Homo sapiens: one gene and its partners. The protein of the gene in region 4 interacts with the protein of the main gene of each other region in a pairwise test. Each region holds a gene or a part of one and is shown on either strand. Other genes may lie near its edges. The genes, in order: CHIC2, CCDC87, CDK18 and CDR2.

Region 1 (7,038 bases), on a different chromosome or scaffold from region 4:
AGGCATGCGGAGTAACAGACTACTCTCTCTAGTATACATGGTTTTGAGCTGTGTAGCATCTTTTCAGATTGTTGTATTATAATTAATTTAATTATAAGATATTTCTGTTTTAAAAATTTCACTGTTAAAAATATCACTGTAACTCAGAAGAAAAGAAACATTGAACATATATTTTTGATTAAGGGCAAAACAAGTTGAAGCAGTGGATTCTTGCATTTCTGCATTTAAAAAGCAAAATTCGTTATGAGTTCAAAACATGTCTTAATTTAAAATGATAGCTCAGTAGTGAATGCCAAGAGACATTGTTAATATGAGGAGATACAAGGAACATAGAAGAAGTTAAAACTGAAGTAAGAAGGACAGAGGATTAGATGGACTTGAACTATGGAAAACATTGAAATGCATTCAAGAAAACTATTGATTAGTGAACCTAAATTTCCTTGTTTACTTATCTTAAAATACCTAGTTAATACCAAATAAAATATTCAAATAAGAAAACAAAATTAGGGTGGTATTGTACATTATAAAATATTTGTCTGCCGGGTGTAGTGGCTCACGCCTGTAATCCCAATACTTTGGGAGGCCAAGGTGGGCGGATCACTTGTCAGGTGTTTGTGACCAGCCTGGCCAACATGGTGAAACCCCGTCTCTACTAAAAATACAAAAATTAGCCCAGCATGGTGGCGAGCACCTGTAATCCCAGGTACTTGGGAAGCTGAGGCACGAGAATCGCTTGAACCCGGGAGGCAGAGGTTACAGTGAGATGAGACCACGCCACCGCACTCCAGCCTGAACAACAAAGCGAGACTCTGTCTCAAAAAAATAAAATAAAATACTCGTCAATTATTTAGTTAGCAGGAACTATACATTTCTGAAAAATAGCTCTTATTTAAAAAAAAACAAATGACACAAAATGTCTTTAATACCCCCTCCCTAAAATAACACTGCAGAATACTTGATTATTCATTAACATATCTGTGCCACTGCAGCTATTTTCTCTTGATACATTTCTGGAAGTAGAATTACTGGGTCAAAGGGTAGGAATTTTTTTTTTTTTTTTTTTTTTTTGAGACTGAGTCTCACTGTTGTCAGCCCGGGCTGGAGTGCAGTGACGCAATCTTGGCTCACTGCAACCTCCGCCTCCGGGTTCCAGCAATTCTCCTACCTCAGCCTCCTGAGTAGCTGAGATTACAGGTGCCCACCACCACATCCAGCTATTTTTGCATTTTTAGTAGTGATGGGGTTTCACCATGTTGGCCAGGTTGGTCTCGAACTCCTGACCTCAGGTGATCCACCTGCCTTGGCCTCCCAAAGTGCTGGGATCACAGGTGTGAGCCACCACACCCAGCCAGGGTAGGAATATTTTTTAAGACCCGTTTTACATACTACCAGATGGCACTCCTGAAAATTCTATCAACTTGCAAGATTTTTGTTCTTTTCAGTTAATATCATGGTATATTGAATTTTCTTCTTCAACATTTTCCTCCATTGAGAAAGATGGTAAAAATACTGAAGATACATAAATAAATCTAAAAATGAAAGGGAGGGAAGGTAAATAAGTTTATGTTCAATGGTATTTCTGTGTTTTTAGTTTGCAAATTTCATTTTTAATGGTTGTTTAATATTCTGTTATATTGAGATAAGATAATTTTCTTAACCATTCCTAAAATGTTGTAAATAGATACATATTTATATTTGTGAATAAAGATTCAATGAACTTGTTTATGCATAAATTTAATCCACATTTCAAGTTATTTTTTAGGTAATATTACATTTCTAAAGAGAAAACAGTATGACAAAGGTATAAATATTTTCAATGCCAAATTAATCTGAAATGGTTGTAACAATTTATAGTTCCATTGACAGTGTGTGATATTTTTCCATCTTGACCTTCTTGCCAACATAAAATATTTTTTAAAATTTAATTAGTCTTGTAGATAACTGAATTAAGATGCCACCTACTTTAAATCATATTTTTAAAAATTATCCAAGTGTTACTTCTGGCTTTTTGGATTAGTAGAATGTTTGGTTATTAGAGTCTGAAGGGGGTTCAGCTTCCTACTCAATGCAGGAATCATTGCTCTTCTTTCAAGTACATCAAATTATTATTTTATGGGATGAAACTTGGCCTTTCTAATACTGTGCTGAACCAGTTGTACTTTGTCTTAGAATAAAGGAAATTATTTTTACCATATATAAAAAGTTTTATGTAAACTTGTAGGTACATTTATAATGCTGTCAATTGAAAACAAAACATAGATGCCATTTTCATTCTAACAGTCTCTGCCTCCTGCTGAACTTAAAAAAGAAGCCAGAACTAAGGTATTGTCAAAATTAAGTGGTTTATGTCAAAAATAAATCATTAGAGGTGATATTTTACAGTTATATTATCAAACAAGAAGTGTGACTTTTCCTATCCATTTAATAAAATAAGACCGTCTTGCTAAAATTCTACCTGCTACTATTGTTTTGGTTGGTCTAGATTTGGATTAAAAAAAAAGGTTTTGGCAGGGATGAAAAACATAGCAAAGGAGATATTTGCTGTGGCCTGTGCCAAATAAGAAATTCTGACATTCAAGCTCTTTGCCAGGAGAAAGCATGCTATATGAAAGAAGACTTGCTGAAAAGAGTTGTTTTCAACTACTCTGATGAGAACAGTCTTATTAGTAAAGAAGTGTGTAGGAAAGCCTGGATTGTGGTAGTTTGAATAATGAATGGGAGGTAACGTAAAGATAGTTAATGTAAAGGAGTCTTTCAAAACATTAGTTGAGGAAGGAAAGAAATAGATGCCATCAGACATTGAGAGAGAAGAAGAAATAAGGATTCACATCCTCAGGTGGATAGACTAATTCAGGTTTGTAGGCTATGTTTAAGGAGCCTGAAGCGAGGTAGAAATACAGTGAATTGCAGAGGAGACTGGAGGAGATGCACTCAGAAGTAAATGGTTAGTTTTTGGAAGCTTTCCTCCATTGAGAGATGGTAAAAATACTGAAGATATATAAGTAAATCCAAAAATAAAAGGGAGGGAAGGTAAAGCAGTTTATATTCCATGACATTTTTTTCTCTCAGAGTTGACAACTGTGGTTATTTGCAAAAAAATGTTGGTTGTGAGGATAAAGTGGAGTACCTAAAGACAGGCACAACAACTACGGAGCATGGAAAAGAGAACTTACTGGGGATGAATAAAGATTGTTACAATAATACTCATGAGATTAGAAATAAGATATGTATGTTATATATATATTTATTATTGGTGATACATTTATAAATGTGATTTTTCTCCAGTAGCTCCAGGCAGTGTGAAGAAGGTAAACAATTTAATTGAACCTGGGTTGGCAAGGGACACTGTAGAGATGATTAAAGGTGTTTGTTGGAGTATGTTCAAAATGATTGACTATGTAGTTCTGGCAAATAAGGAAGGAAATGGAGTCATAGGGAGCTATGGAGGGGTGGGAAGCAATATATTACAACCAGAGGCCAAAAAACAAATTTAGTAAGGATGGGAGAAATGAAATGATTGATGGCAGTGGTAAGAGAAGAATTTTACAGTTCAGAATTTCAGAGGTGATACAGTCCCAAGTGATGACAATATGCAGAATATATCACAGTGAGTAGGTTGCTGAATTAGATGGAGGTGCAGGAGGTAAAGTTCTTTAGAATAGATAAGGTCAGGAGTGAACTGTAGTTGAGGATTTCTAAGGAAAGAGTGGCATTTCAACAGGGTTTTTGGTTAAAGTGAAGATATATACAAGTATGTGGTGCTTAACTATGGGGACTACTCTGATAAATGGGTCAGTAGGCAATTTCATCATTGTGCAGACATCACAGAGTGTGTGTATACAAACTTAAAATGGTGTAGCCTACTACACATCTAGGCTATATGGTATAGCCCATAGCCCTTAGGCTACAAACCTGTACAGTATGTTACTGTACTGTGTATTGTAGGCAGTTATAACACAGTGGTAAGTTTTTGTGTATCTAAACATAGAAAAGGTACAGTAAAAATACAGTATTAAAATCTTGTGGGACCACCTTCTAGTATGTCCTGACTGAAACGTTGTTATGTGGCACATGACTGTATGTATTTAAGGTTTGTTTTGTTTTTTAAGATAAGATATAAGGAGGTATCCTGATAGCTGCAGATCAACAGATTGAGGGTTTCAAGGTCTATCAGGAAAGATAAACTTGAATATGATGATCATGAGAAAGCAGGATAACAGATTGGAGTGGTTTGCAGAGTTATGACTATAGACTGGAGGAATGTAGAGATAGTGAAATGGATGTATGTGGGATATGAGTAAAACAAGCCTGTTTCAAGATTCCATTTAGATTTAGGTGTAAAGTTGGAGTCCCCCCTTCAAAACTTTACAGTGTATTACATGAACTTTCAAAATTATCTCAAATTATATAAAAGTAAAATTGGTCTCGTGTGTGATTTCTTAAGGAAACAAAGGAAGCTGTAAAAGCCATAAAAGCCTGCACTGAAGTGTTGCATGGAATGTGCTCAGTAGTTGTGATTTGAATGAATTCTCTGTTCTCCAAGTACTGGTAGACTTCTGATAGATAAAAGCAAGATAGGTTGTTTTTATTATGTCTTTTATCTTCTTGTTATATTTACCATTCTTTGAAAATAGTTTAAATCTTTTATCAATTCTAAAGCCATGGAATATTTTAACCATGATTCAAGAAAAGGTCTTTTAGGTAATAGGAATAGATATAGGTATAGTACACGTCTACATTTTCTTTCATACCATCTAATGCACTGACAAATAGGTGTTCAATGGAACCTAAGACGGTTCTTGGTAGCACTTTGTCCATTCCTACTTTTTTATTTTTTCTCTCCCTTTTTCCTTATTCTTCCCCTCCTCACTCTTTTTCCTGCATTTTTCCTTCTCATCTTATTGCTTGTGTAGGACACCTGCTAAAATTCACAGGTATTGTTTGTTTCCACCAATAACATTAAAAGCTGGAAAAAATCGCTATCCCACCCATTAAAATAATATGCTTTGTAGTTACTTTTTAAGATATAAAGTTGGTAGCTCAAATTAAATGAACCATTTATATTTTTGTTTACATACTGCTGGTTAATTAACATTCAGCCCCTTATCATTATGCAAAAGTTTCCATTTAACTGCTAAAATAATTGTTACATTTCATAAATTGCTTGTTACAGTTATTTTATCTCAAACTTCCATTTTATGTCTAAAACTTCCTCCATATGTGAAAATGCTTTCTATTGACTTGACCTTTAAATTAAATGGTCTACATTTTTGGCAACAATAACATGTAATAACATATTCTTCTTATTTTTTAAAATAGATTTGGACTGAGCAACAAATTTGAATCTGAATTCCCTTCTTCATTAACTGGAAAAGTGAGTGTCTCATTTATGTACTATTTGTATGCCTCAAAATGAAAGTTTTTTTCTGAGAAAATTAGAAAAAAGTATGCTCATCAGTCATGTTTTTTGACATTAATATTGCATTGTTATTATTTCTTAAAATTTTTCTTTAGGTAGCTCCTGAAGAATTTAAAGCCAGCATCAACAGAGTTAACAGTTGTCTTAAGAAGAACCTTCCTGTTAATGTACGTTGGCTACTTTGTGGCTGCCTTTGTTGCTGCTGCACATTAGGTTGCAGTATGTGGCCAGTTATTTGCCTCAGTAAAAGAGTAAGTTGAATTATATATTTTAATTTAAATTTAGAAGTGGACAAGCAAGTCTTGCATTTATCTAGTTTTTATTTTTTGTATTGAATGAATCACACTATCCTGAATAAAATATGAAAATAATCTGATCCAGGAGAGGAGTGAGTCAGTAAAGTTACTATATATCCAAGTGCTGTTATTAAATAGCCATCTAAAAATTATATTTATAATTTTAGAAGCAAGGAGTAGTGTATGGCATTGTCTGTATCTGTACATTGACAGTGGTGTGGTATAGTGATCAAGGATGCTGGCTTCAGCTCTACCACTTTTCTCTGTGACCTTAGGCACGTTTCCTAACCTCTTTAAACCCTACTTGACACAACTGTAAAATGTTCACCTACTACTTGAATATAAAGGTAAAATGAAAATGTTTGGAAAACTCTTAGCTGAATATCTCAAAGGAAGTGGTTAATAAGTATTAATTAATAGTATTCTTACTGACTGTAAGATGGTACCCATACAAGAAATAAAATGGTTACAATGGTTGTTTCTTGTTGGTAAGATTATGGGACATTCTTTTCTGCTTTTTATATTTTACAAGTTTCCTGTAGTGAGCACAAAGTGATTCTGTAATCAGAAAAAATAATTTCAAAGACTCATTATTTTGACTGCTTATAATAAAAAATTCTGGCCAGGCACAGTGGCTCATGCCTGCAATTTTAACACTTTGGGAGGCCAAGGCGGGCGGATCACTTGAGGTCAGAAGTTCAAGACCAGTCTGGCGTACATGGTAAAACCCTGTCTCTACTAAAAATACAAAAAATTAGCCAGGCGTGGTGGCGGGTGCCTGTAATCCCAGTTAGTCAGGAGGCTGAGGCAGGAGAATCGCTTGAACCTGGAGGGCGAAGGTTGCAGTGAGCTGAGATCGTGCCATTGCACTCCAGCCTGGGCAACAATAGTGAAACTCTGTCTCAACAAACAAATAAACAAAATTTTAAGATGTTGGTAGAGATATGACAAATTATTATAGATTGAATGTATTATATTCTTGTTAAAATTTTCAAAAATTGTATTTATATGTATAAAAATGATACTTTAAAAAAATTTTTTTAAATAAATAAATTTTATTTTTTAAAAATGTATTTAAAAAAATAGAGACAGGGTTTCTTTTTTTTAATTATTATACGTTAAATTCTAGGGTACATGTGCACAACGTGCAGGTTAGTTACATATGTATACATGTGCCATGTTGGTGTGCTGCACCCATTAACTCGTCATTTAACATTAGGTATATCTCCTAATGCTATCCCTCCCCCCTCCCCCCACCCCACAACAGTCCCCGGTGTGTGGTGTTCCCCTTCCTGTGTCCATGTGTTCTCATTGTTCAATTCC
Region 2 (7,144 bases), on a different chromosome or scaffold from region 4:
GTTTGAGAACTAAAAGAGGTGACAATTTAATGTAGTGTGATAGGAATGCTAAAGTGAGTTGTTCCAAAGATCACCTTTGCCTCTGACCCTTCCCACTACAATTAACTCCAAGGTCTCAGTTCTTTTGATATAGGAGATTTGGCTTGTATTGTGCAAGGCTTGACATAATGGGACTACTAGGCTTGGGGATTCTTTCATGAGAATTTCACTAAGAAAACAATAGTTTTAGTCTCAATCCCTTCATAGTTGGAAGCATAATGTTCCTGAACCCTCCACTCCCAGATATAGACAAATATTTCTTCTTCCAAAGCAGTAAAGAGGTCTAGATGAGCTGCTGGCCATTTAGGGGTGAGGGAGGCATTTGAGGGCACTGGGCCTGGTCAAGGAGTAATAGGGGTATTCCCAGGAGCTACTAAAGGCTGGCTGCTGAGCTCCTGAACAGGGTTGACTGGTGGGGATCCTTCAGGGCCGAGACCAGGTGGCGAACCCGCCGCTGCTGTTGCAGCCAATAGAGCATCTCCACTTTGTCACTCTTCATCTTGTCCAGGTAGGGCCGCCCCTTGAAGATCACTGGCTCGCCAAAGATTAACTCTATCTCCTCCAGGAGGGAAACCAAAGAAGACTCCATTAAGTTGAGCTTCCTGTGGAGATGGCTTCGGACCTGATTCTCCTCCAGGAAGTGACTGGAGCTCAAGTTGGTCTTTTTGAAGAAGCGGTTGGGATTGGAAGCTTGTCCCTCAAACCACTCTAGTCTCGCCAGCAATGCCTCCCGCAGCTGAATGGGCTTCAGGGCCCGCTCCCAGGCATTCACCAATGAAGGCAGCTGCCTCAGGCGGGCTTTGGAGCTATATTTAATGGTCATGTCCACCTGGTCCTTGTCAGGGACCTCAAGCACAGACCACAGTTGTTCCAGATGCTTCTGCAGGCTCAGAATTTTGTGGGGTTCTCCCAGGTGGGGTGTCTTCCCAGCTCCTAGCCTGTGCTCTAGCACAGTGTTCCAATCCCACTCTCCTGGCACAAAGTCTGGTTCTTCATCTTCTAGCAATGGGGGAGGGTGCTGAATCTCTAGGGACTCTCTGGCAGGGGCCACAATCTCCACAGGAACCTCTTCTTCATGCATTTGAAAGATGACATGAAGGAAATCTGTTTCATGGTTGGTGAGGTACTTGAAGTAGTCATCCACAGACAAGGTGGTTTTCCATGAGTTCATCAAGGAGGCCTTGTTTGACCACTTCTCCCAGCTTTTGGTAGCTTGGAGTGATGGGAGGGAGGGCATCTTCTTAGTATTGGACTGTAAAGTGTTTGCTCTCTGGGAGTAAAGTCCAACCAGCTCAGGGTTGATGATTTGAGGCTGTTTTTCTTGACGTAGAAAGGCTGAGGACAGGAAGGTCGACCAGTCTTTATCTGCTGCAGGCTCAACTAGGGGCCCTTGATCAAAATGTAAGTGGTCAGAAGAGACATGGCTCATCAACTCCTTGTAGACCTCCCTGGTAGTACTGCCAACAAAGTTATCAATATCCATTTTTTCAATGGCTTTGGGATCCAGTTCACCAGCCAGATGGTTATACAGGGCTCCGGCCCCCTCAATGTGGAAAGAGTCTAAGAAGTTTCTATCAGAGACCCGTACGGCAGCCGCCTGGACCACGACCTCATTTCTAAGCTTCAAAGTAATGGTCACTGGCTGTGGGTGAAGTGGAAAGGATTTGGGGGGCTGGGGGTCCCACTGCCCAGAGGCTTCTTCCTCCTGGAGGTTCCTCAACATCTTCTCCAGCTCCTCCAGGCGATGCCCTGCAGCTGGGTGACGGGTCACAACCCCCAGGAGAGGAGGCAGGCCTGAGTCCAGTGGTGGGTAGCGAGTCCCCTCCAACTTCATCTTCTTTATCAACTGCTTCAGATCCTCAGCCACGATGAGCCCAGTCAGCTCTGGTTTGCTCTCTGTAGCCAAGACCAGCGGGGTTAAGGGGCGAGATGGGAGTGGAGGAAGGCCCAACTCATCTGCCAGCCTCCAGCCCTCACGCAGGGAGGGCATGGATTGGCCTCTCCGGAGCTCAGGGCAGAAAGGCGAGGGGGAAGCCCTGCTGGTGGGGGCCACAGGATAGCTGGGCAGCGACACCATCTGTGAGGAACTGATGTCGATTTCTCTCTTCTTTCCTATGGAGGGCAGCCAGTGGAAAGGCTTTTTCCTCTTCAACCGAGGGATGGACTTCAATTCCTTCACTGGATCCATCCTTCCTGGCTCATTGAGAAACTCTGGTGGACGGCTGAGTTGGATGAGGTAGTTCAGGTTGAGGTTAGAGCACTGCACTTGGGCGAAGCCAGTGCTGTGAGGCCAGGGGATAGGGCACAGCTTGAACGTCCCAGCGGGGCAGACAGGGTGCAGCTTGTCCACATCCCCAGAGGCCTGCTCTGCCCTCAGCAGGGCCTGGAAGTCGGCAAGCAGGCCACGGTAGACGTTGGGACTAGTAAGGAAGAGTGTGCAGTCCCTGGCGAGGCTGGCGGCCAACCGGGTGAGGGTGGCTGATTCAGTGAAGACCCCCCTGGGAGTCGACATGGTCACCAGCAGGTGCAGGTAGCGCAAGAAGAGCTGCTCGCTGCTCAGCAGCACGTAGGCCTCGAGCCGCTTCCGCAGCTTCTGGTTGTTTTTGTGGCTCAGACTAAGTTCGGCGGGCGGCTCCCGCCAGCTGCACTTCAGCTCGTCCAGGATGACCTTGATGAGACGTAGTCGGGCCTCAGGAGGCACTCCCGCTGCTATCCCGCTGCCGGCCAGCAGCTTGGCCACCTGGCTGCACAGCGACGCCACCGTCAGCTTCGCCAGAGGGAAGGACTGCAGAATCCGGCCCTCCTGCGGGGGGCGCTTCTGAGGCTCTGGGGACGTCGTCCTAGTGGGGAAGAGCGACAGCGGACGCAGCAGCCGGTGGTAAAACCGCTGGAGCTCAGGCTCGGGCTTCGGGGGCTCCATCATAGAGCCGGCGGCCGCCACCGTCCAGGAACAGAAAGCCGAGGGGTTACTAAGGCAACCAGGAGCCCGACGGCCCGAGTGCGCCTGCGCGGCCGCCACCCGGTGGCTGACGAAGCAGGGCCTTGCGTGCGCACGCACTAGGAGGAGGAGTTAAGGGTGGCTTTAGAGGCTCAGTCCCCGCGACGCCGCGCTGGTTGGTGCTCCTGCGCCGGAGGAGTTCTGCGTCTCGGGGTGGTGACTGGGTCCAGAATGGCTTCGGATTCGGGGAACCAGGGGACCCTCTGCACGGTGAGGGTCGAGGCTTCGTGTGGAGCCTCGCCGGGCAGAGAGCCTCGGCCCCTGGGATGATCGTTACCTTGGGAAGAGGAGAAGGAGTGGGCACTTGGGTTGGGGCCTGGGGCCATGGGATGAAACTAGGGTGCGAGGGTAGCAGGGGCCCTGCGTGAGTGTTGGGGGGTGACTCCCATGGTCCTGGAATGGTCATGAGAGATCATGAAGAAGGTGCTTGAAGAGGGGTTAAGTGGGGCTTGTTCCCAGACCCTTGCGGTGGTCATAGGGTAGGTGGTGAAACAAAGTCATACCAAGGCACTTCCCCAGCGATCATCGGTTGGTCCCTGCCGCCCTTGCAGTTGGAGTTCGCGGTGCAGATGACCTGTCAGAGCTGTGTGGACGCGGTGCGCAAATCCCTGCAAGGGGTGGCAGGTAAGAACAGGGTAAACTTTTCTGCAGACAGTCCAGAAGCCTCTGGGAGGGACCAGGCGAATCTATTAGGCGAACCCTACTCCCATTTTACAGATGCAGAAAGTGAACCCCAGAGAGTGAAAGGCATGTTCTCAGAGTTACACACAGACCTGGAGGCAGAGCCTAGAGTACAGCTGTCCAGCTTGCCCTGACAGATTCTAACTGCCTGTCTTGTTGTCCTGAACCTCAGGTGCCCCAGAGACTGAGGAGCTAGGCTGAGGGAGTTCCTGGGAAAACAGGCAGTTTTTGCTTGGGAAACAACATAATCTTGACAAAGCAAACAGCAGCTCAGGCCCTATACCATCCTGGGTAGCTTTCTATACCACTGGGTGTGGTGGCTCATGCCTGTAATCCCAGCACTTTGGGAGGCCGAGGTGGGTGGATCACCAGGTCAGGAGATCGAGACCATCCTGGCTAACACAGTTAAATCCTGTCTCTACTAAAAAATACAAAAAATTAGCCGGGCGTGGTGGTGGGCGCCTGTAGTCCCAGCTACTTGGGAGGCAGAGGCAGGAGAATGGCGTGAACCCGGGAGGCGGAGCTTGCAGTTAGCCGAGATCGCGCCACTGCACTCTAGCCTGGGCAACAGAGTGAGACTCCGTCTCAAAAAAATAATAATAATAAATAAAAGGCCAGCTGGTCTGGAGGTGACCTGGCACAATGAGAAAGATCTGGAAAGGTAGAGCCACCAGCATGGCTCTGGGAACTGGCTTCCTTTGATTCTGTTAAGTGTTTATCCAGGCCAGGCTCAGTGGCTCACGCCTGTAATCCCAGCACTTTGGGACACCAAAGTAGGTAGATTGCTCAAGTCCATGAGTTTGAGAGCAGCCTGAGCAACATGGCGAAAACCCTCCTCTATAAAATATACAAAAATTAGCTGGGCGTCATGGTGCACTCCTGTAGTCCCAGCTACTGGGGAGGCCAAAGCAGGAGGATTGCTTGAGTCCAGGAGGTGGAGGCTGCAGTGAGTTGGATCGCTCCACTGCACTCCAGGCTGGGTGACAGAGTGAGACCCTCTCTCAAAAAAAAAAAAAAAAAAAACAAGTTCACCCAGTCATTCGGCAGGTATGGACCAGACACTGGGGCTTTTTAGGGAGAAGAGTTCACATGGGTATCAGGCACATCCCCTGCACTCAGGTGGAAATGAGCATGCAAGCGTTGCCTGGATGGCATTCGCAGAATGCTTCGTGGAAAGAGCAATGGTGAGAGGGAATGAGATAAGATGGCTTCTGAAGCTGGGACCCTGGTAGTGGTGGACTCTGTAAAGTGATTAGGGGTATGAGCTCTAGAGTTCAAACCCCCTCTTTGCCACTTAATGGCACTAAGACTTCATGCATGTTACTTTTTGTGTCTCTGTTTCTTCTGTGTTAAATGGGGGATGATAATAGAAGCTAATCTGGAGGATTGTCCTGAAGAGTAACCGAGTTAATACAAAAAAAGCATTTAGAAAAGTCTTTGGCATGTAATAACAGCCCAGTAAATCCTAGGGGATTATGAGAAGAAGGGCTTACAGGTGGTGATCTGGATGGAAGGAGGCTGGAGGGGACAATGTTGAAGCTGGGTTTGCTTAGACTACGCGTTTTGGGTGGTGAATGGGCCCTCCACTTCCTGTACTACTTGCTTGCGAGGAGAGCAGACAGCTGGCCTTTCTCTTGGACCCGGAGCAGTTTTCAGCCCTCAGCATGTTTCTTAGGCAACAGATAAAGACTTCTGGTGACTCTGTGTTTTCTGGTCCGGCTTGGCTTTCTCATGGGGCCAGGGAGGGAAGCTGTAGTTTTCTAGAATACACACACACAGAGAAAGAGAGTTGCCATCTCAGGAGGCCTGGGGGAAGGCCTTCTCAGGAGGTAAGCAGGAGGATCCCCCAGCCCAAGGCTCACCCCCTTGAATCTCTATCACTTGCCCTGGTGTTCTCTGTGGCCTTCTGTTTTCTCTCTCACTGGGCTCTGAGCCAACCAAGGGTGGGCCTGGCTACATTCCAGGGTCTACCAGTCTTAACTCAAGGAGCAAACTGAATGGCTGCTTGGCTAAGGTACCAGCCTCCCTCTTGGTTTAGACTCAGTCAATAATTCAGGAGGTACATAGTGACAAGGAACTTCCCACTTCAGGAGCAGAGAATCAGCTCTTCTCTGGAGACCTGAGGGTCTGGGAACCCTCCTATGCTGAGGCCTGTCATCAGGACATCTTATCTGCTATGTGTCCAAAACATACTTAGGCCTCCACACTGCTCCAGGCCACCCCACCTCTCCCTAGCCTGTGTAAGAACCTCATCCTTTGATGGGTTCCCCATTGCTTCTGTTGCCCCCTCTAATAGCTTTTGCACATAAAAGCCAGGGTCTTGTTCTGCTCTGTTGCCCAGGCTGGAGTGCGGTGGCACCATCTCAGCTCACTGCAACCTCCACCTCCCGGTTCATTTGATTCTCCCACCTCAGCCTCCTGAGTAGCTGGGATTACAGGTGTGCACCACCATGCCTGGCTAATTTTCATACTTTTACTAAAGATGGAGTTTTGCCATGTTGGCAAGGCTAGTATCGAACTCCTGGCCTCATGTGATCCACCTGCCTCAACCTCCCAAAGTGCTGGGATTATGGGTGTGCGCCACCACGCCTGGCCATCTGACAACTGACTTTTTTTTTTTTTTTTTGAGACGGAATCTCGCTCTGTTGCCCAGGCTGGAGTGCAGTGGCGCAATCTCGGCTCACTGCAAGCTCCGCCTCCCGGGTTCATGCCATTCTCCTGCTTCAGCCTCCTGAGTAGCTGGGACTACAGGCGCCCGCCACCATGCCCGGCTAACTTTTTAGTATTTTTAGTAGAGATGGGGTTTCACCGTGTTAGCCAGGATGGTCTCGATCTCCTGACCTTGTGATCCACCCACCTTGGCCTCCCAAAGTGCTGGGATTACAGGCATGAGCCACCGCGCCCGGCCGACAACTGACTTTTGAACTTGACCCTTGTGGACCTCACAGAGCTCCTGCCCTCACAGAGCTGGCGGCCTAGGAGTGAAACAGGATTGTAGTCAGTGCAATGTGAATTACAGGAGGGGGAGTGTGAGCTGCTACAGGACCACAAGGGGTGTGGTCCTAACCCAGCTTGGAGCCTAAGGGCTGCTTCCTAGGGTGAGTACAATATCTGGGTTAAGTGCTGGGGCTCTGGAGCTAGGCTGCATGGTCAGAGGTCCAGTTGCACAACTTACTACAGTGCGACTTTGAGCAAGTTTCTTCATCTTTCTGTGCCTCAGTTTTCTCATCTGTAAAATGGGGATCATTGTACCTAACTTAGAGGCTTAGTAGGAGTACCAAATATGTTAAGACAGGTAAAACACAGGATTCGCTCACCGTCCATGCCCAGTAAGTGTTAGCTCTACTAATGATGGCAATAGTCCCTGCCTTTTATGTGTGTAATAGCTTTATTAAGATATAATTCGGCTGGGCGCAGTGGCTCACA
Region 3 (4,660 bases), on a different chromosome or scaffold from region 4:
CTACCTCCCTCCCCAGAAGCCAGGGGGCCATTTGGCATCAGGAACACAGGGATTAGCTGCACGGCCAGACCCCAGACCCCCGCCCAGGGGTCCCTCTTTGCTCTCCTGGCCAGCCCCACCCCACAGGCACCAACTTGGGCCAATGCCAGGCCACAGGTCAGACTCCCAGGCCTGGGACTCCTCTGCCCACCCACAACAACCACTGATGCTCCTCAGCAAGAGCCAACTTCTGGCTCTGAACGCAGCAGCACCCAGGATACAGCAAGGTGAATGCTAGGCACTCGTCCCACAGCCTGGGGTGTAGGGGAGGTCAGAGATACACACAAATCAAACTCTCTCCTCACTATATATATATATATATATATATATATATACACACACACACACACACACACACACACACACACATACACACAAGCACACCCCACCCACACTCATTAGGCCTGGAGGGGGGACTTCAGTTCTCCATCTTTGGCATCAATCTATCAAAGTCAGCTTTTCTGTACGAGACTGCTCGCTCCTTTCTGTACATGAATTAAATATATTATCTGTCTCTGCACTGAGTCACACGACGTTCACAGTACCGTGGGGAGGAGTGGAGGGTGGGGGCCTGAGGTGGGCAGGGCAGGGGGCCTGGGTAGAAAGGCGAGGCTGGCCTCCCCTTGGCCTGTGCCATTCAGGATCAGCCCAGTGTTGAGGAGACCTGGGGGATACAGAGGGGAGCCTTCTTCAGGGGCCCCGGCCACCCAGGCTTCCAGCCCCCGGAGGCAAGCCTCTCAGCATCAGAGCCTGCTCCTGTTCCACGTTCCTCTCCCTCAGATGGTGGCATCTACACCTCTCCCTGTCGTGGCCGCCCTCTGGGGTGGCAGGGGCTGGGGGAAGCTGGTATTGGGATCAGGTGGACAGAGCCACAAGGGCTGGGAAGGAAGGATGGGGAGGCTGTGCGAGCCTTCGGGAGCTGAGGTCAGCCTGGCACCAGTGTCAGGGTGACTCTGCATATCTGGGTGCCGTCCCCAGGACCCTGACCAGGCCTGGCTAATCAGAGCCCTGGGATGATAAGGTAAGCAGGAGCCACCTCGGGAAGGGGTGGACAGGCAGGAGCCGGTCACAGCTCCAAGGGCAGTGAGTACGGTACCACCTGCCAATTTAAGGCAACTCCATTCAGACTGATGAGCTGGGCGGGGGCTGGCTGAGGTGGCAGGCGTGCAACTGGCGGTCCCAGGCCACCTCTGGACACAGCTGGGCATCCAAGCATGCCAGCAAAGCGTATGCCGGCACTGCTCAGCCATGGTTCAAGCCAGAGGGTGTCGGGGAATGAGGGTAGGGTAGGGCTGATGGAAAGAGTGGGGACTACTATTCCTTCTGTTGCTGTGGGACACCTGCCAGGTGGGGTAGGCTTTGGCACACATGTGGGTACCTAGGATTCCAGGGTCCCAGAGAACATGCCATGTCTCTTCTTGCTCTCAGAGGGGAAAAAGATGAAACGTGTGTGGGCTCCAAGGGGCCAGAAAGGGGGACTACCAAACTGGCACTAGGCAGGTCCTGGGGGAGGAGGGTAGAGCCTGTATCCAGGGCAGAGTGCCCATCCTGGCGCCTTGATTCTGTCATCCGTGTGCATCCCACGCAGGTGCCCAAACACCAGGGTGGGAGAGGGTACGAGGACCGCCCCCCCCTCATGTCCTCTCAGGGAAGCAGCTTATGCCAGCCCCAACGTGGGTAAAGGAGGGGTTGGTATGCAGGTGAGGGCTACTGGGGAGGCACACGGGAAGCACAAAGAAGAAACAGCCGTGGCCAGAAGGGCTGCCAAGCGGTCTTCCAGGCTGGCTGTCAGCCCTCGTTCTTCAGTCCTCCGAGGGCCACACAGGCTCCATCCTACCCGAATTTGTGCTCCATGTGATCTCTTGTCCCTTGGCCACAGCAAGGTGGGCGTGGCTCAGAAGATGCTCTGCCGCCTGTTCTTCCCTCGTCCTGGAGAATGGAGAAGAGGTGGGGCTGCAGGGAGGAGGCTGGGCTGACGGGTACCCCAGGTCAGCAGGGACAGTCGCTGTCCCCCAGAGCTGCTCTGACAGAGCAAGCAAGGGCATGCAAACAGGAGCCGGTCTGACCTGGTGTCAAATCCCATCTCTGCTACTTACTAGCTGCATGAACTTGTGACTTAACCTCCCAGAGCCTCAGTTTCATTGACTATGAAATGGGGAATATTAATAGTACTAGCTTCAAGGGGTATTTTAAGGATTAAAGAAGACGATGCATGGAAAGCATTTGTCAATGTCCAAGGCCATTGACTGTTCTAGGAACAAAGTACCGTTCTCCCAGGATGGAATCTGATTAGAGAGCTCAGGGTTTGCAGAGAGAATGCACCAGAGACAGCATGCCTCTTTGCCAGGGCTACTGTCAAATGCAATGTCCTGTCTGGGGTGGAGGGTTGAGGAGGGAAGAGCTGGACGAGGAAGTCTAGGCAGGAGAAACCAACCCCTTCTCTGCTCCCCAAAGAGTCCAAAGGGAAGCCAGTGGTGGGGGGACCATGGGAGTCCCCACTGGGGAGGGGTCGCCTGCTCTGGCTTCCACTAACAAGGGGAGGGGTCCAGGAGAGCACAAGCCCCTACCTGGCTGCTGGAAGGCCAAGCCTCGGTAGCCTGGGTCCTTCTGGAGCTGGATCTCCTTCAGGGAGAAGATGGAGGCAGCTGGGGGAGAGAAGTGCATAGTCTGGAGAGGGCTGCGTGGAGCTGGCCTCCAGTAAGGACTGGCCCAGAAGGACCAACTGAGCCCTCGAGGCAGCGTCTCATTTCCACTGTTTGCCCCCTCAATTTGGAATGAGAACCCCAGCAGGGGAGGCAAGGTGCCCGGGGCTGCTCTGCTGGGGCTGGGGCCTCTGGCCTCTTTGTTCTGGTTCTTCTGCCCACACTCACCAACCCCTTTCCTTGGTTCTGGGTGGCCCTGCTCCCGGACCCCCAGTACTCACTGTCTTCAAGCTGGTGCACACGCTCTCCCAGAGACCGGAAGTAGGAGTGACTCAGGGCAGCCTCTGCTGACATGCGACTCTTGGATTCATACTGAAAGGCACAGGGTGGGGCTATTGGGCCCGGCTGGGGGGCTGCAAACCCTCTGGGCAGCAGGACTCCAGTGCTGGTTAGAGCACCAAGGTGGGTGAGGCTTGAGGCTAACAGGAGAAGCCCCAGGTCAGCCTCCAGCCCCTACCACAAACCCAACCTCAGGCCATCTCAAGACTCAGGGGAAGGCTCCTCGGTCTCCAGCCACCAGGAAAAACCAGAAATGAAACTTCAGGAGAGTGACCTTCTCTTGGGATAGAAATACAGATGCAAACCAACCATGATCAGATGGAGAACATCCGTAACAGGAAGCGTAGTGCCGATAACAACCCTTCATCGTGTGCCTTACAAGACAGGCACCACACTAAGTGTGTCCCGTCATCTCAATGTATCCTCACGGCCATCTTATAAAATAGGTATTAATCCCACTTTGCAGCTGAGGAAACTGAGGCATGGAGGAGCTCTGTAACTTGCCCAGAGCTACACAGCTAAGTAACGGGTTTGGGCTCGCAGTGCACAGACTCCAGAGGATGTGTATGGAGGCCACCCCTTGGCCTTGGGGGTGGAGAGTACAGGGGAGATGTTTCAAAGACGTGTAAGCACACGAGCCACAGAAGTTGGGGCGTAGGCCCGGCATGGGGCACAGGGACCTGGCTCTTTGGCTGCCTCTCCCTGGGCCCCGCCGGGAGGACACTCACCAGGAGCAGGCTGCTCAGGAGGTGGATGCCATCCGTATCCAACCTGCAAGGAGAAGGCGCGGACACAGGCTGTGCCTGATTGGGGATGGGAGAGCCAGGGCCGCAGCAGGAGGGGCGGCGGGCGCAGGGGCTACCTGGGCGCGTGGTTGATGAGCGGCTGCGGGAGGTAGCAGGGGAAGCTGTAGGTGCGGAACTCAGAGAAGGCGGTCACGCCGGGCCACGTCTCTTCTGTGGGGGTCCCTGGGGAGACGAGAGAGGGTGGGGAGGGCCTGCGTGAGGCCCAGGGCCAAGGCCGACTTGAAAGGGATGCAATGTATGAGGTGGGAGCAAAGATGGCCGAGGCCACAGGGGGTCCCCGCCCGGGAGAGAGGCGGCCGAGCCGCTCCTCCCCGTCCCGCTCCGCGCCTGGGCTGGAGGAGTTCCGGCGCCCCCTGGTGGTGAGAGGGACGGAGCAGCGGGAGACTGACCGAGGAGGCGAAAGATGAGGTGCAGCTCCTCCTTGACTGTGGAGCCCGGGAAGAGGGGCCTCCCTGTGGCCATCTCGTAGTGGATGCAGCCCACGCCCCTGCGAGGAGCAAGGGGTAGGGTCGGCATCAGGCAGGGGCGGCCGCCCTTCCTAGGGCTGCTCCACCAGGGCACCAATGACGACCTGCCACAGGCGGCTGCAGGGATCGTGGCTCTGGCGGCGGAGGGGTGGCCCAGGGCAGTGGAGGCTCCTAGAACTGCCCAGCCCCCACTACAGCCCCTCTCTGGGGGGCTTCCCTGGGCTCGGGAAAGCTGCGACTTTCACTCTGTGAGGAAAGTCCCCTTTCACTCTGTGAGGTTTGGGTCTGTGCAGCCAGCGCCCATGTGGCAATTCTCTCAGCAGTGTTGTCTCAAACTCTCTCCACTGTGTGCCCCACTGGAAGAGAA
Region 4 (5,222 bases):
CTTCTAACTGCAAAACTGCATATATAAATAGAGCTCTTTAAATAGGCAAAGGAGACTACAAATGGCTAACAGATTAAAAAATATTGTCTTATTAATAGAAATGCAAACTGTTTTTAAATAAGCTATACTATTCAAACATTAATAGTATAGTTTGAATAGTATAGTTTGAATAGTATAGTTTCTTTGCTATGGTTGATCAAATGTTTTGAGAATCAATTTGTCAAATGCTATTAATTCAGAACCAAGTCTGACATTTCTGAAATAGTGAAAATTACAGAGTATATAAATTTGAAAATGTTTGTCCAGAGTAGTTTTAATGAGCATTTAGCAATATGAGCAGAATTTGTGCTATTAAGTTACACAAATCCAAGGATTCCCTGTTTAAAATAGGAAAAAAAAAATCACTGCAAATCTTTCTCGCGATATTTGTTGGAAGAAAAAAAGTGAACAGTTGGTTATAAGAGCGAAATGGCTTATATTGAAAGTAAGACACAGATCCATCTGTTCATTTTCATAGGTAGCTTTATTTGGTTTTTAGAAAAATATATACAATAATCGGAACATCAGTTCTTAAATAGTTTTAAGTTAAAAGAATGCAAGTGAGAGGATGTTTCCACAGTCAGATCAATACTGCTTAATAAAGTAGATAGGAATTTCTGCAACAAGTCAAAACATTTACAGGAATGGTAAGAACTCTGCAAGAGCAGCTTGTGGCTGGCAAGTCAGCCAGCTCAGAAAACAGGTAGGAAGGGAAGGGGTTTGATCTTTCCCCTTTAGTTTGAATTTGAGAAAGTGATAAAAGATTTACATATTCACCTATCCTAAAGGCTAGAGCTTTGAGTAAAAACATTAGAATACAGGGATGGAGGCCCTCTAGGGCATATGCTAACAAGCTAACTTATATCAAACAAAAATTTGCCATCTCAATTTGGTATTCAGTTGGATTTGGATATATTAGGATTACCTGTCAGTCACAGTTCAACTAGTTCAGATATAACAAAACTCAAGGACTTGGAGTATTGGTTAATGACATTTCTTTTGGATTAGACCCCTGCTTTCTCTCGAACATTCTTCGTAATGAATTCACAGTATTCAAACTGTTTGCAAAGATATTTGAGTTTGACAGCCTTCTGACTTTCATCGTTTTGAGAAGTTGCGCAAGGAAGCAATAGGAATTGCCTTAGCTTTGTTCTAACTCGACCCTTTTCCCCCATACTGTAGTAACTCCAGGCCTACTTCTCCAGAAGTATAGCTCTTCCCTCCACTGGTCCTTTTCAGGAACTGAAGTCTAATCAGCGCGCCAGCCAGAGGCCAGTTTGTCATGGGATTTCCTGGGGAGCTTAAATGGAAGTGGATCAGAGAACTGATACCACTAGCCACCTCCTTTCCTCGTTGTATGCATTTGCTAAATAAGCAAAGCAATGAGGCAAACGTCATGAGTAACATTAGGCTTCAGAGTCTACAAACACTTGTCTGAATGGGAGAGAGAGGCGATAGGCAATAGGCAAATTAGTAGTAGAGCTAGAGGTTCAATTAAGAATGAGAGGAGAGTGATCGGTATTTTGTTCTCTGTTCATCTATTTCCTGCTTAGTTTTCTTGATGCAACTAAAGATCTCCTTAAACAACGCTTTGTATTCTGGAGGTGTTGTAGGGGAACTCACGGGCTCTGGGTTGACAGAGGCCAGTTCCCAGCCGCTGGCAACAGGCTCAGACTGGGCGTTCACTCCAGTCAGGTCCTTGGCTGCAGCCCTGGAGGTCTGCACAGCCTTGTGTGACAGGGAGTCCTGTTCCTCTTGGCACTTCTTCAGCAACTCTTCATACTTCACCTTCAGGGCGCTGTACTGCGTGTCCACTTCGTGCAGAAGGGAGATGCCCCTCTGTTTCACAGCCTTGGCCCTCCTGATGCAGGTCTCCTCGTGGCCCTTCACGATGTCACTCCCTGCCAAGCTGCTGAGGATCGTCTCACTGCTGCTGCGCTTGAGAGGCTTTCTATGTGATTCCGGCACAGTCAGGAACATCTCTTCCAGCAGGCTCTGGCTGGGCTCTTTGAAAGGAACATACAGAGAGTCTGGCACCAGCTTCTCAACTCCATTCACAAATGGATGCTCTGACTGCAACATCTGTCGCATCTCTGCCACCTCGGCCTCTAGTTCCAGCGCCCGTGCTCGGTAGGCACCTGTGGCCCCCAGCTGCTGCTCCAGTTCACTGTTCTCCTTTAACACGAGCCCATATTCCTCCTCCATAGTCACCCGCTTCTGCCGCTCCAGGCTCAGCTGGGCCTGCAACATTGTCACTGTTTTTTTCAAGTGCTCATTTTCCTCTTCATCAGGGCTTGGCTGACCTTGCAAGGAAGTGATCTTCTCAGCGAACACATGATCATACACGAAGTGTCTAGGGAAAAAAATATTGAAAGAATATATTACACAGGTCCACTGAAAATGACGAGAGGAAGACTGGTGATTTTTTTTCAACTAAATAAATTTGAGGAGCTGTGACAGTGACTAATTTTTTTTTCTTTTTTTTTGAGACGGAGTCTCACTTTGTCGCCAGGCTGGAGTGCAGTGAAGCGATCTCAGCTCATTGCAACCTCAGCCTCCCAGGTTCAAGCGATTCTCCTGCCTCAGCCTCCCGAGTAACTGGGATTTTAGACATGCGCCACCACGCCCAGCTAATTTTGTATTTTTAGTAGAGACGGGGTTTCTCCATGTTGGTCAGGCTGGTCTCGAACTCCCAACCTCAGGTGATCCTCCTGCCTTAGCCTCCCAAAGTGCTGGGATTACAGACGTAAGCCACCACACCCGGCCAACAGTGATTGGTTTTTAGCCACACTTGGAGCAGTGGCTAAAATGGAATTGTGTGAGGCTGGTAAATAAACACATGAAAGCAAACTCAATTTTTGTGACAAATCTTTTTTTAATGTTAAAAGTACTAGAGAACATCTATTCTAGCAGTATGACAATGACCTCACAAGGGAAACCTTAAAAAGTACTGGTGCCTGGGTCCCAACCCACAGATTCCAACCTAGTTGGTCTGCTACCTGGCCTGAGGGTTTCTAAAGGCTCTCCAAATGATTCATAATATGTAACTACGATTGAATCACTACAGCAAATTACTGTTGCTGTGGTGATTTTTAACCAGGAATGTTCATCAGAATTGCCTGGGCAGCTTTTTACCCGCACCTAGAAATTCTGATTTAGGCCTGAGGAAATGTGTTGGTATTTGCATTTTGAAAAACCCCACAGGTGATCTGATGTACAGCCAAGGTTGAGACCCACCAAATGAACCACCTGGTTTCTCCTGCTCAGTCTGAAGCACCTTGACTATTTATTTGTGTTTTTATTTGCTTATCTGCCGTTCCGTTAGACTGAAAGCTCACAGGGGTAGAAACTATTTTGCTCGCCAACCCTTGGGTCTAGCATACAGCTTGCCACACAAGTGTTCCATAAATACTTCTTAAAGATTCAGACTTATAACTCTAAATTATAAAGGTACTTCTTTAAGCAAAAAATCTCCTGTTCGCTTGAATTTTTGTTTTACCAGTATTTCTGTTTTTCTTCACTCTAATGTAAAACACAACTCCCAAATCTAGTCTATCAGAATTCATCTTAAACTATGATTTAATACATTAAAAACACTGAAATAAGTGTTCCAAGACTTTCAAAATGAGAACTACTAATATCTAAGAACTCTGTAATTTATATGTTTAAGTGATTTTGTTCAAACCAATGGTAGCTTAATAGCTAAGTGACTTTTCTTAAAATGGTACTTTCAATCTACTGGAAATCAGAATGTGCCAATGACATGAGACAGTCCCTGCTGTAACTCCACAGAAAGGCAGGCTCTTACTGGCGGAGGTCATACAGCTCCTTCAGACATGCAAAGCTGGGTGCCGGTTTCTCCTGGTCACACTTTCCCGGGCTCCTTCTCCCTTGGCCAGATGACTTCAGCTCCTCCACTTGGCTCTGGAGGTGATCAATGTTGGTTTGCAGGCATTCAATCGTTTCAGTCAGGCTGTGAGGAACAGACAGAAGCCACTGCTGCTTGTCATATTGAATCAAGGGCAAAAGCGGTGAGGAGAGATTAGGTGCAAACCACTCACACTGGGCTTTCTTAATTGGAAAGGATGTCTATTTAATCTCCATTCTCCAAAAAGAATTAAATTAAACCTTATCCCATATTGACCCAAACCCACTGCAGCCATGTTCTATTCTAGTTTATACTAAAGAACTTCCCCCTAGTCCTTCCTTGTCAGATTCTAGAAAATTTACCTCAGAATCTTTTGCTGTGAGGCCTTGCTGTCAGCAACTAGCTTTTGATTTGTTTCTTCCAGTTCCCTTGCTGTGACGTCTAATTGTTCATAAACCTTTGCATGTTGTTCGTTCATCTGCCGTAGAAGTTCCACTTGCTTCGTCAGATACTGTAAGAGAAGATCAGGACCAGGTGACACAAACAGATAAGATACCTGCTGTTTCTTGGCTGGCTGCGGTGGCTCACGCCTGTAATCCCAGCACTTTGGGAGGCCAAGACGTGTGGATCACCTGAGGTTAGGAATTCGAGACCAGCCTGACCAACATGCTGAAACCCCGTCTCCACTAAAAATACAAAAATTAGCCAGGTGTGGTGGCACACGCCTGTAATCCCAGCTACTTGGGAGGCTGAGGCAGGAAAATTGCTTGAACCTGGAAGACAGAGGTTGCAATGAGCCGAGATGGCGCCATTGCACTCCAGCCTGGGCAACAAGAATGAAACTCCATCTCAAAAAAAAAAAAAAGATACCTGCTGTTCTGCTGTTCCAACACCAATTCTCCGATTGTCAGCACCAACTCTTGTTGGGGTGGGGCTGACATAGAGTCTCCATCTCTGGGCTCACTGGCCTCCCAGCACTGCCCAGAAGCTCCTTTAGACCCATTTCAGTTTTCTCCAGGTCTTCTCTCACATCAGCATGATTGATTCAATTATTGGCCATTGGTGACTGAACTCAAGCTCCAACCCTTCCCTCTATCCAGAGGTTGTGGGGCTGGGACTGATAGATCTAACCCTCTAATCATGTGGTTGCCTTCTCTGGTGACCAGACCTCAACCTATCAGGAAATTCCAAGGGTTTTAGGAGTTCTATGCCAGAAACCAGGGACAAAGACCAAATATATAATTTTTATTATACCACAATACCATATGTTTATTTTAAGAAAAGAAGAAATTAAACTCCCTGTCTTCATAAGAAA

What was found.
Region 1: the proteins of CDR2 (region 4) and CHIC2 interact in binary tests that used the Homo sapiens proteins (3 or more experiments, as listed by UniProt).
Region 2: the proteins of CDR2 (region 4) and CCDC87 interact in binary tests that used the Homo sapiens proteins (3 or more experiments, as listed by UniProt).
Region 3: the proteins of CDR2 (region 4) and CDK18 interact in binary tests that used the Homo sapiens proteins (3 or more experiments, as listed by UniProt).

What each region holds. Positions count from the first base shown.
Region 1 is NC_000004.12:54,047,587-54,054,624, reverse strand, and holds part of CHIC2 (cysteine-rich hydrophobic domain-containing protein 2), read left to right. Parts: intron 1-5,319; coding exon 5,320-5,374; intron 5,375-5,514; coding exon 5,515-5,670; intron 5,671-7,038.
Region 2 is NC_000011.10:66,590,054-66,597,197, forward strand, and holds CCDC87 (coiled-coil domain-containing protein 87), read right to left. Parts: upstream 3,011-7,144; 5' UTR 2,963-3,010; coding exon 413-2,962; 3' UTR 123-412; downstream 1-122. Other genes in the region: CCS (copper chaperone for superoxide dismutase), read left to right, coding at 3,209-3,247, 3,589-3,661. UniProt on the Homo sapiens protein: Plays a role in spermatogenesis, where it is important for normal sperm head morphology. Also required for the acrosome reaction and thus normal male fertility.
Region 3 is NC_000001.11:205,528,652-205,533,311, reverse strand, and holds the end of CDK18 (cyclin-dependent kinase 18), read right to left. Parts: intron 4,314-4,660; coding exon 4,216-4,313; intron 3,989-4,215; coding exon 3,883-3,988; intron 3,792-3,882; coding exon 3,749-3,791; coding exon of another isoform or gene 3,539-3,748; exon of another isoform or gene 3,060-3,538; intron 3,054-3,059; coding exon 2,963-3,053; intron 2,685-2,962; coding exon 2,607-2,684; intron 1,969-2,606; coding exon 1,934-1,968; 3' UTR 522-1,933; downstream 1-521. UniProt on the Homo sapiens protein: May play a role in signal transduction cascades in terminally differentiated cells.
Region 4 is NC_000016.10:22,345,432-22,350,653, forward strand, and holds the end of CDR2 (cerebellar degeneration-related protein 2), read right to left. Parts: intron 4,419-5,222; coding exon 4,270-4,418; intron 4,013-4,269; coding exon 3,848-4,012; intron 2,393-3,847; coding exon 1,534-2,392; 3' UTR 505-1,533; downstream 1-504.